Linked DNA regions of Homo sapiens. The protein of the gene in region 2 interacts with the protein of the main gene of each other region in a pairwise test. Each region holds a gene or a part of one and is shown on either strand. Other genes may lie near its edges. The genes, in order: MECOM, TPR and MAP3K4.

Region 1 (3,660 bases), on a different chromosome or scaffold from region 2:
GCTAATGTTGGTGTAAAGCTCAACCACATATAAAGTGCTTAAGTGTAAAAGTGGTTTAAGTTTATGTAAGCCTTACACCAATCCAGTGATACGGGTATTGTGAGTCTTGCAGTGCATAGGCAAGGAAGGGGAAGATCATCCTGTAATCAGCATATCTAATATTGTCCTTTTAATACTGCACCAACCCCTGGACTGGAGTGTTCTGAGTCAACTCACAGCTTCGCCCAGCAAACCAGGATGCAGAATTTTCAGTGTGCCTTTAAACTGTATTTTGTTATATGCTTTAGCATAGTAGCCAAAAAATAAATAAATAAATAAAAAGGCATGTTGACTGCAACCAGGACTTCATATAGAGTGTCTCTTGGCAGAATCTATTTAAAACTTGTTCATAATTTGTCTCACTCTAAATTCTCATTATGTGAATACAAATATTCTCATGTCACAATAGAGGTAAGGAAAAGCTAGTGAGAGAAGCACCTTCTTTGCGAGACTGTACTTCATGATTTCAGTGGTTCAATATATTCCCAAAGGACCGTCATGGGCATGTGTATTATGGTAAACTGGGGAGACTTTGACTTTCTAAAGTTATTATTATTAATATTCATAGGGCATGTTTTAAGAAACAGCACTGATCAAATTCATAAGGAGTGAGTTTCCAAATAAGTTGCTAGATAAACAATAATCTTTGTCATAAAAGGCTTTCTGCTCCACACAGGTACAGCAACATCGTCGCCTCATTCTGAACTGGAAAGTACAGGTGCGATTCTGGATGACAAAGAAGATGCTTACTTCACAGAAATTCGAAATTTCATTGGGAACAGCAACCATGGCAGCCAATCTCCCAGGAATGTGGAGGAGAGGTAAAGCTGTCTTTTACTTTTTAAACTCTGTGACGACTGAAATGAACATGTTTTAAAATATACTTGCTATGCTCACTTTTGTGGCACTACTATTACTTCAGTCACCAAAGACTGGTATATATTTAGTACATATTAAATACCACATTAAATGCTTCCAAGCATTTTACATGTGTTAATTAATTTAATTTCATCATAACCCTATGAGATAGCCACTATAATTTTAGCAGTGAAGGAATGGAGACATTGAAGCTTAAACCATTGTGTCAGAGGTCACATAAGTAATCAATGGGATTCAACCTGAGCTCTCTGGTTCCAGAGCCCATAATTTTACCAGGATTTAGCTATCTGATAGCTGAATAGAATCTGTTATCAAAATTTCAGAAGTAGAAGAGAAAGCCGTCACAGGGATTCAGTTGAATCACTGATCAATAGTGGCTACTATTATACATCATAAATTATATATATTACAGGTAATATATGATTCTATATACCTGTATTATACATAAATACATATATGTATATTCTGTATATATGTAATATACATATTATAGTACATATGTATGTATGCATTTATATATGAAATACCCATGGAGTTTCCCCCAAATATATTTTACATAGAAGCTTTTATAGTCTTCTTAAGATTCTATTGCTACTTTATGTCCTCTTAAGTGACTACTCATTTAATTCTGGTCTGTTTGTTTCAGTGGGTATGAACATCCTTGTTTTTACTGCCCTGATGCACTGGCTCCCTTTTATCATCACCAACATTAAGCATGAATAGCTTAATTCATTTAAAAAAGCTTTTAATGCTGTTAATGATAATACTTAACAGTTACCCAGCACTTCACATTGCATATGAAGTTAATGAAACACTATTTCACCAAAACTACTGGATTTAATTTTTCTTATCTGTAAGCTATAATTAAATATCTATTGTTGAGAAGTAGACTTTTCTGAACACGACTATATAGTGACCTATTAAATTCAGATGCTACATTGTAAATTTCAAAATAACATGAAATTAGTTAAAAGTTCCATTATTTTTCATCATACAAGTATTATTGGATTAGTGTCCTCTGTTTTTGATGTTATCAAAAGTCAAAATTAATTATTTTATGTAATTTTTTCAAGGCAAACATCAAATAAACATTTTTTACTAAAATAACAAAAAAAATGACCACTTCTGTTTTTCAACTTGTATAAAAGTGTATCAAAGAAAAACAAGAAAAAAGACCCTTCCAGTCTCTGAGAAGTCTGATAACTACACCAGTGTGCAGTTGGATGTACCTTTCCCTTTACTTGCCCATTTGTGTGTGTGTGTGCGTGTCTGTCTGTCTGTTTGTGAAAGGGAGAGAGGAAGCAGATGATCAGAAGGACAAAGTAGCAAGAACAAGCAAGAAACAGTGACGATCTTATACTTTGATAATGATATTTACTTGATGCAAATAAGAACTGTTGAACAAAACACACCATTTGGGTTCTGAGATGCCTATTCAAATTTTCTAGCCTTTAATTGGCGATTTGTGAGCCTGTATAGTTGCAACATCTGGCTTCAGCATGTCTAAACAGCACAGAAATAAGAAGGTTGAGTCATCTAAGTTTTTCCCCTGAACTCCTACCAGGCTACTTTTGATGAATAATTTATTCTCTGTAAATTGCCACATTTGAAAACTTAATTAACAAATAGATTTTCTTAATTATGTTGGCTTTTGTTACTTTTGATTTTCATCCATGCACTCTTTTTGTTCTTTTACTTTTTCTTTCTTTTTTTTAAATAAAAATTTTAATCCACTCATGCAAGCAAGTTGGCAGTGTGTTTGGAAACTAATTTATGTCTGTGCAAAAGATGTTTTCACCATTCTTTGATAAAAGAGGTTAAGCGATTGTTTTTATTAAAAGCTTAATAATGATATGACTTTTTCTGGTCAAATGGATTTTTACTATGTGTGTTTGTCACATCCAAGATTGTTTTATTTATTTTTTAATCCTGGGAAATCTGAATATTAAATTATACTCATTTTTGTTATGTGGGAAAGTGATGGGGGTACATTGTAATACCTGAGCTTTTTCCACCCTGGCGTTTTCCTGAGAAACAAGGAACTATTTCACATTCAGACTGTAAAAAATAATTTGAAAATAGTACAAATAAGTGAGCTGTCAATTACTTCCAAATATGGGTAGAGTGGTTAGGTGGAATGTACCACAAATGTCATCTAGTATCAGTAAATACCAGTTGTTTCTTGGTAACTACTTTAACATTGTCTTTGGACTTTTAGAGTCACTTTAGGCATGTGTATTGTAGCTACGGCCCATGAGTGATATGAATTTTCCAGAAATCTATTATTTTAAATGGTGGGTACTTACATGGCAATTAGGTAAATTGTGCTGAGAACATACTTATGTGCCTTTTTATATGATATATATAGCAATATCAATTATCAAGCAAAGTCTGATAAGAAATGGGAGACCAAGATTGTTTTTCGGGTTCTGCCAGAGGCTTCATTTATAATCTGAACAATCATACAATTATTTTTTTCTTTATCTTCCCATTTGTGAAGTCACATTATTTTTTCATGGTTGACGTAGAGCATAAACAATAAAACATTTCCGATGTTAAGTGTTGAAAATCTAAACTGTTGTTGGGAAGACATAATAAAGGAACAAATTACAATTTTAAAAATGAAACCAACAATTGGACTTTTTTTTTAATGCTTTTGAAAGAATGAATGGCAGTCATTTTAAAGATGAAAAGGCTTTGGTGACCAGTCAAAATTCAGACTTGCTGGATGATGAAGAAGTT
Region 2 (3,660 bases):
TAAGACCTGAAGCCATAAAACTCAGAGAAGTGAACATAGGGGAAAGGTTCTTGACATTGGCCTTGGTAATGATTGTTTGGATCACATCAGTAGTTCAAGCTGCAAAAAGAAATAAACGGAACTACATCAAACTAAAAAGCTTCTACACAGGAAACAAGAATATTAAAAGGCAACCTACAGTTCTGACATAGGTAGCTTGAGATAGATATTTCTAACTCAAAAACATGTAGATTGCCATTGTTTTGCTGGGAAGCAGTTTGACAAGTTTTTTGTTTTTGAGACAGGGTCTCACTCTGTCACTCAGGCTAGAGTGCAGTGATGCAGTCTTGGCTCACTGCAACCTCTGCCTCCCGGGCTCAAATGATCATCCCACCTCAGCTTCCTGAGTAGGTGGGACCGCAGGCATGTGCCACCATGTCTGGCTGTTTTTTTCTACTTGTAGAGACTGGGTTTCGCTGTGTTGCCCAAGCTGGTCTTGAACTCCTAGACTCAAATGATCGGCCCAGCTTGATTTCCCAAAGTGCTGTGATTACAGGCATGAGCCACTGCACCTGGCTGACAAAATATATTAAAAGTTTTAAGTAATTCAATTTTTAGGAATCTTTCTTGAAAAATAATTTGAACTAAGGTGTAAATACAGTGATATTCTAAGTTATTAGGACATTTCCATGTGATTAAAAGAGATATGAGAAAAATTTTCATAAGCCTAGTAAAAATGTTTTAAAAATCCAAAATTTAAATAGAAACATTGGAATTACGGGTATTTTTTAACTTTGATGTGTAAGTTATAAGAGAAAGCCAGTCATTTACACTACAGCTGATGTTAACTAAAGTGACAATTCTATGTTCGCTTTCCTGTATTGCTCTACTTGATTTTCTTACTTATTACTTCTTTATATGACAGAGCCAATTTACAAGAACAAAGGAAGAATTAGAAGCTGAGAAAAGAGACTTAATTAGAACCAATGAGAGACTATCTCAAGAACTTGAATACTTAACAGGTATGAAGAAGTGCTTGTAGCTTTTAGCTCCATTCCTTTATTTTTCTTCTGTTAGTGCTAGGAGTTAGTGCTCAGCCCATTTCTGTTGCTGATATTTTTTTGTTATGGTTGAGTATAGAGTTGTCATATCCTATTATTTCTCCTACTCATTTATCTTTAAATCATTGTCAAGTGTTTAAAGAAGTGTCTAGAAAGTGCACAAGTGAAGAACATCTCAAAGAAGTAGTAATTTGGACCAGATTTTACATGCAAAGATTTTCACTACAATGCTGTACATAATGTCAAATTGGAAGCACTTTAAATATTTGCAAAGGCTGAACTACTGTTCTTTATTTCATATGGACATCCTTGCTATATAATAAGCATTCAATATAAGAACATATACTCAGCCTATATTTATAAACAGACTGAAGGAGGCAGAGACATAAAATACATAAACATAGACTGTAGTATATAATACAGCTGATGTAGTCAGGTGAACTTGACTCTGAAGCAGTTAATGGTAAGAAGTTTCCTTTGGTGCCCAGGCACGGTGGCTGACGCCTGTAATCCCAGCACTTTGGGAGGCTGAGGTGGGTGGATCATGAGGTCAGGAGTCCAAGAGCAGCCTGGCCAAGATGGTGAAACCCCGTCTCTACTAAAAATAACAGAAATTAGCCAGTCATGGTGGCACGCACCTGTAATCCCAGCTACTTTGTAGGCTGAGGCAGAGAATTGCTTAAACCCAGGAGCCGGAGGTTGTAGTGAGCCAAGATTGCGTCACTGCACTCCAGCCTGGGCGACAGAGCTAGACTCCGTATCAAAAAAAAAAAAAAAAAAAAAAAAGGTGTTTTGGGTTCTTTTTTTTTTAATGGTTTTTGAAATTTTTTTATTTCTATAAAAGAAAGGATTTTCAGATATTTATATCATTATACAATAATATTCCATTAGTTAAGTATACTTTCCCAGTCTCACAAGAGTTCCTTCAAAATACTTGAGTGTGTTGATCAACAAGTGGTAGTTACAACTAAACGAATTCATAAAATCTAGATATTTAATAGATAGTTTTTTAAAAATGTGTATTCCATATTGAGTAGGTTTTTATATTAGTGCTTTTTAGCTTAATGATTATTTATAAAATTTTAATAGGTCTTTGGATATATATCAGGAAAATTAAGGTTAACGTTGAATATTTAGCTTAACACACTGTATTTAAAATAAATTTGGATAATTCACAAGTTTGGATACACAAATTTCAATTTTTTGTCATATATTTGTAGAAATTGAATTTGTAATTAACTATGGCAGAAACAAGTTAAAATAAGAGAGTTGAGAACTACAGTTGACCCTTAAACAACACAGTGGTTAGGGTTGCTGATTCCCCCCACAGTTGAAAATTTATGTGTAACTTTTGACTCCCCAAAAACTTAACTACTGCTGTTAACTAGAAGCCCTACCAATAACATACACAGTAGATTGTCATACGTTTTGTCTGTGATCTGTATTATATACTGTGCTCCTTCAATAAAGTAAGCTAGAGAAAAAAATGTTAAGAAAATCATAAGGAAGAGAAAATACGTTTACTGTACATTAAATGGAAGTGGATCATCACAACCATCTTCATCCTCCTTGTCTTTACATTACCTAGGCTGAAGAAAAGGGGTTGGTCTTGCTGGGTCAGGTTGCAGAGGTAGAAGGGGAGGCAGAAGAGGGAGGCACACTCAATGTAACTTTACGAAATACAGCCTAATTTCTGTCTGACTTGCTTTTTCATTTCTCTAAAAATGTTTCTATACATTACCAATCTTCCTTCCACCGTTTGCTATAGTTTCAGTGCCCATGTAAGAGAAGGATCCATGTCATAAAAGAAATCAAAAGCAGTCTTGGGTAATCAGAACCCTTCCACCAGATAGTCTGTTACCAATATGTTTTCTGACACTGCTAGTTCTACATTCTTTTTCCACATCGTCTGGCACTGGTTTGGAAGCACTCATCTCCATCCAGTCATCTTCTGTTAATTTATCTGATATGGTGGCTATTAGCTCTTGGATTTCTCCAAGGTCCGTATCTTGAAACCCTTCATCCCACTTTTTTTGCCATATCCACAATCTCTTTCATGATTTCTTTGATTGGCTCTGTTACAAATTTTGTGACATCATGCACAACATCTGGAGAGTTTCCTCCAACAGGAATTTATTATTTCAGCCTTGATGGCTTTCATAACTTTTTCTGTAATGAAAAAGAAGGGATGGCCTCTTCAGTGTGTTATCCTTTAAAACTTTCATGATATTTTCTCTGTTGGGGTTCTCTTCCACAGTGTTGACATTTTCTTTTCACAAAGTATCATCTCTATTGAGCCGTAAAGGTCCTTATGACTCCTGATCTAAAGGCTGAATTAGAAACATGTTTGGGAGCAAGTAGACTGCTTTGACACCTTCCATGTTGAACTCCTGGGTTCTGGGTGGCCAGGGACAGTGTCTAAAGTCAAAAGAACTTTAAAGGCAGCCCCTTGGCCAGGTACGGTGGCTCATGCCTATAATCCCAGCACTTTGGGAGGCCGAGGCAGGTAGATCACCTGAGGTCAGGAGTTCGAGACTAGCCTGGTCAACATGGCAGAACCCCATCTCTACTAAAAATACAAAAATTAGCTGGGCGTGGTGGTAGGCGCCTGTAATCCCAG
Region 3 (3,660 bases), on a different chromosome or scaffold from region 2:
AGTGATTTCGAACATACACTGAAATTTGAGAAGCTTGAGCTAGATGATCTCTAAGTCCCTTCAGGTTGCTGACTTGTCTGGTATTCTAGTTCATCATTACTCTGAAGATCATCTCATACTTAAAGATTATCCATCTGTTTACATCTCATTTGAGAGCTCAAATAAGGCTGGTTTCTAAAATTTGGACAATATGTATATGGGAGAACATAAAAATTGCAAGAGTTTGATTAAAAATACAATTAATACATATTCTAAAGAGCCATTTTTAGTTGTAGATGGTGGGAATTCATTTGTTTGTCTTATATCCGTCAGATGAACCATATTGCTTGTCATTGGTTCCTTTCAGTTTCATTATAAAGTTTTCTTTTAAAAAAATTTTTATGTTCTTCTGATTTTACCAGAATTATTGGTGATTGGCCAAAGGAAAAAGTGTTCCAGAGGTTTGCTTTAATTGTGCTACAAAAATCACACCATTTCATTTATAGTCACTTGGGAGATCAGGTGTCCCATTCATCAAGTTATTAAGAACTATTTTTGTAGTCCTGTAATTAGAACTTGCCAAATAAAACATTCTATATAGCTAACTCCTGTACTTTTTATTCATTTTCCTTTTCAGAATTCTGCTCTGTTTCCATTTGACTTTTGTTAATTGCAAAGGAATTTAGTATTAATAGGAAACCAAAAAACAAGCACACCTGTCCATCAGTAATAGGCTTTTGGTTGTTATTAAAAAGTTCCTTAGTCATGTCAGAGTGGGTAAAGACAAAATGTAAAAATGCTCAGGGAAATGACTAAGTCTATAGACTACCCCCGCACCCAACACCCTAGTGTTGTTCTCAGATCTCCCTTAAGTCATAAGTCCCTTATGATTTTATAGAGGCCTAACTGGTCATCAGTTGCCAGAAAGCACTCTTGGATTTACTCTCTGTGTCAGTCCATTTTGCGTTGGCTATAAAGGAATACTTGAGACTGGGTAATGTGTAAAGAAAGAGGTGTATTTGGCTCATGGTTCTGTATGCTATACAAGCGTGGCACCAATATCAACTCAGCTTCTGGTGAAGCCTCAAGAAGCTTTTACTCATGGTGGAAGGTGAAGAGGAAGCAGGCATGTCACATGGAGAGAGAGGGAACAAGAGAGAGCTCTCACATGAACTAATAGAGCGAGGACTGGCTGGTTCCCGTGGGGAGGGCACTAAGCCATCCATGAGGAATCTGCCCCCATGACCCAGACATCTCTCATCAGGCCCCACTTCCAACACTGGGGGTCACATTTCAGCATGAGATTTGGAGGGGGCAAATATACAAACCAAATCACCCTCTCCTTCTGTCACAAGTATATTATTCTAAAAATGTAGCTACTGCTGAGGTAGAGTAATTGGTATATCCTTTTTGCACAGTAGCTAGACACGAGTTTGTCTATTTTAAGTTCGAATTGCGTCATTATTTAAACTAAGATGTATGAATTTATATTTTGTGTATATTTTTCCAAAACCAACTTGGGTTTTGTTTTGGGGTGGGGGGGAACAAAAAGCTTCTCTGTCCCATCTTGCTCCTTTCCCAATTTGCTTTTCCTTAAACCTACTATGTAGGTCCAAATATTAAACCATTGCTTTATCTGAACACAAAATTTCAAAAAATTGTGTAATAGACTGTTTTGTATGCTGTGAGATAAACTTAACAAGATTTGTATTTAACCTATAAAAGTTACTTTTTCAGGCTTGCTGAAATGAGATTATGTTTATGTGGAAAAATGGGATTGTGGCATTTTTTCTTAGATTGCTTTCATTGTTGGAATAAAGGTCTAGGGTGAGAAGCTTCATCTGTTATTATTTTCATGTTTTGCCCCTGGTAAGTGTAGCACAGATTTGGAATAATGCTTGTAGCCAGTCTTCTGGGACTATTAAAGTCATTTAATCCTTAGTTTTCACTTAGGACCTTTCAATCATAGATTAGAAGAACTTGAATAAATTATATAAGAAAAGTAATATTTTTTCACTCTCAACTATTACTTTCCAATTATAAATTGTATGCAGATAGTCTGTGGCCATTATCAATAATGCACCACATTAGTTCTATAAAGTATTTTAAAAAGCCCAACGCCTGAGCCAACAAGATTGTTTTTTATTTCACAATTTTTTGTTTTCTTTGACTCAAAATCATTTATTTGGGTGTACATAATAGTTAATACACATTCTATTCTAGGTCTTCATTGCCTTTCTTCTGCACACTTTTCTTGGATGTTCTTATCTACTATCACGATATTAAATAATATCTGTACATACTAATAATTTCCAAATCCATTTCTCTGGATTTCTCTCCTAAGCCCAACATGTGTGTTTTTTTAGTTACCTATAGATATTTCCACGTGTATGTCCCATAGGCACGTCAAATTCAGTGTATTAGAAACTGAACTCATTTTCTTTACCTCCAGTCCTACACAGTGATACAATGTATATGTCATTTTGTGTTTCCCAGTAATAAAGTATAATATGAATTATCTTGAAAAATATAGTGGAGTTAAATGTGGAAGCACTGGTCATTTTTGGTTTCAAAATACCATGGGTTAACCAAATAGTATGTATGTGCTCTGTTAATAAAGGTATAAAAAACACAGTTAAACGCATCAGAGCAAGAGAATTAAAGTTGGTCTAAGCAATTTTTTTATATAAATAAGAGTTGATAAGCATTTATAGCTAGAAACAATAAAACTGTGAAGAAATTTTCTTAAATGGACTATATGAAAAGTTTAAAGACATTTAGAAGTAGATTAGTACTAAAGATAAAAATTCTATCTTAAAAATTTTAAATTTAAAAAATAATAATAATAGTAGTTTGTATACTAAAATACAGCAAAAAATCTCTATGGACAGATTGGTTTAAAACCTTTTTTGATGGATCATAAAGTAAATTTAAGGCAAGTTTAATATAAGAAAAACCAAGCTATAAGTGCTCTTTGGGAAATTTGTTTAAAAATCCTTATTTTAAGACTAATTTGAATCGGTTAGGAAGTAAATTGGTTTTAAGCAAATTTTCATTGGTGCCTTGGTTTGTGGTATATTGGTTTGTAACCCATGTAAATATACCCTATTCCATCAAATCTGAAGATATACTAATATGTCTTTAGATATTACATTCACAACTAATCTCTTATATATTCCCAACTAATCACCTAAAACTAGGTGATATTATATACTAAGAAAATTATATAATAATTTCTTAGTATAATTATTATATTAATATATATAATAAAATTCTTAGTATATAAGAAATATATACTAAGAGATTATAATATATTCTAAGGTAAAAACAGCTTATAATTGATGGTGTGTTCTTATAATTGGAATTTTTATTTATTTAAAGAGATCTTTTATACTTTCTGATATGTAGATATATATTTCACTTATGCATATATATATATATATATATATATATATGTTTAAAAAAATGGGCCAGGCATAGTGGCTCATGCCTGTAATCTCAGCACTTTGGGAGACAGAGGTGGGAGGATTGTTTGAGCCCAGGAATTTGGGACCAGCTTAGGAAACATAGTGGGATCCTGTCTCTACCCAAAAAAAAAAATTAGCTGGGTGTGGTGATGCGTGCCTGTGGTTCTAGCTACTTGGGAGGCTGAGGCGGGAGGATCACTCGAGCCCAGGAAGT

Evidence for each region.
Region 1: the proteins of TPR (region 2) and MECOM interact in a two-hybrid assay, tested with the Homo sapiens proteins (one study listed by BioGRID).
Region 3: the proteins of TPR (region 2) and MAP3K4 interact in a two-hybrid assay, tested with the Homo sapiens proteins (one large-scale study listed by BioGRID and IntAct).

What each region holds. Positions count from the first base shown.
Region 1 is NC_000003.12:169,090,158-169,093,817, reverse strand, and holds part of MECOM (histone-lysine N-methyltransferase MECOM), read left to right. Parts: intron 1-715; coding exon 716-860; intron 861-3,581; coding exon 3,582-3,660.
Region 2 is NC_000001.11:186,365,227-186,368,886, reverse strand, and holds part of TPR (nucleoprotein TPR), read left to right. Parts: intron 1-904; coding exon 905-1,001; intron 1,002-3,660.
Region 3 is NC_000006.12:161,043,712-161,047,371, forward strand, and holds part of MAP3K4 (mitogen-activated protein kinase kinase kinase 4), read left to right. Parts: intron 1-3,660. UniProt on the Homo sapiens protein: Component of a protein kinase signal transduction cascade. Activates the CSBP2, P38 and JNK MAPK pathways, but not the ERK pathway. Specifically phosphorylates and activates MAP2K4 and MAP2K6.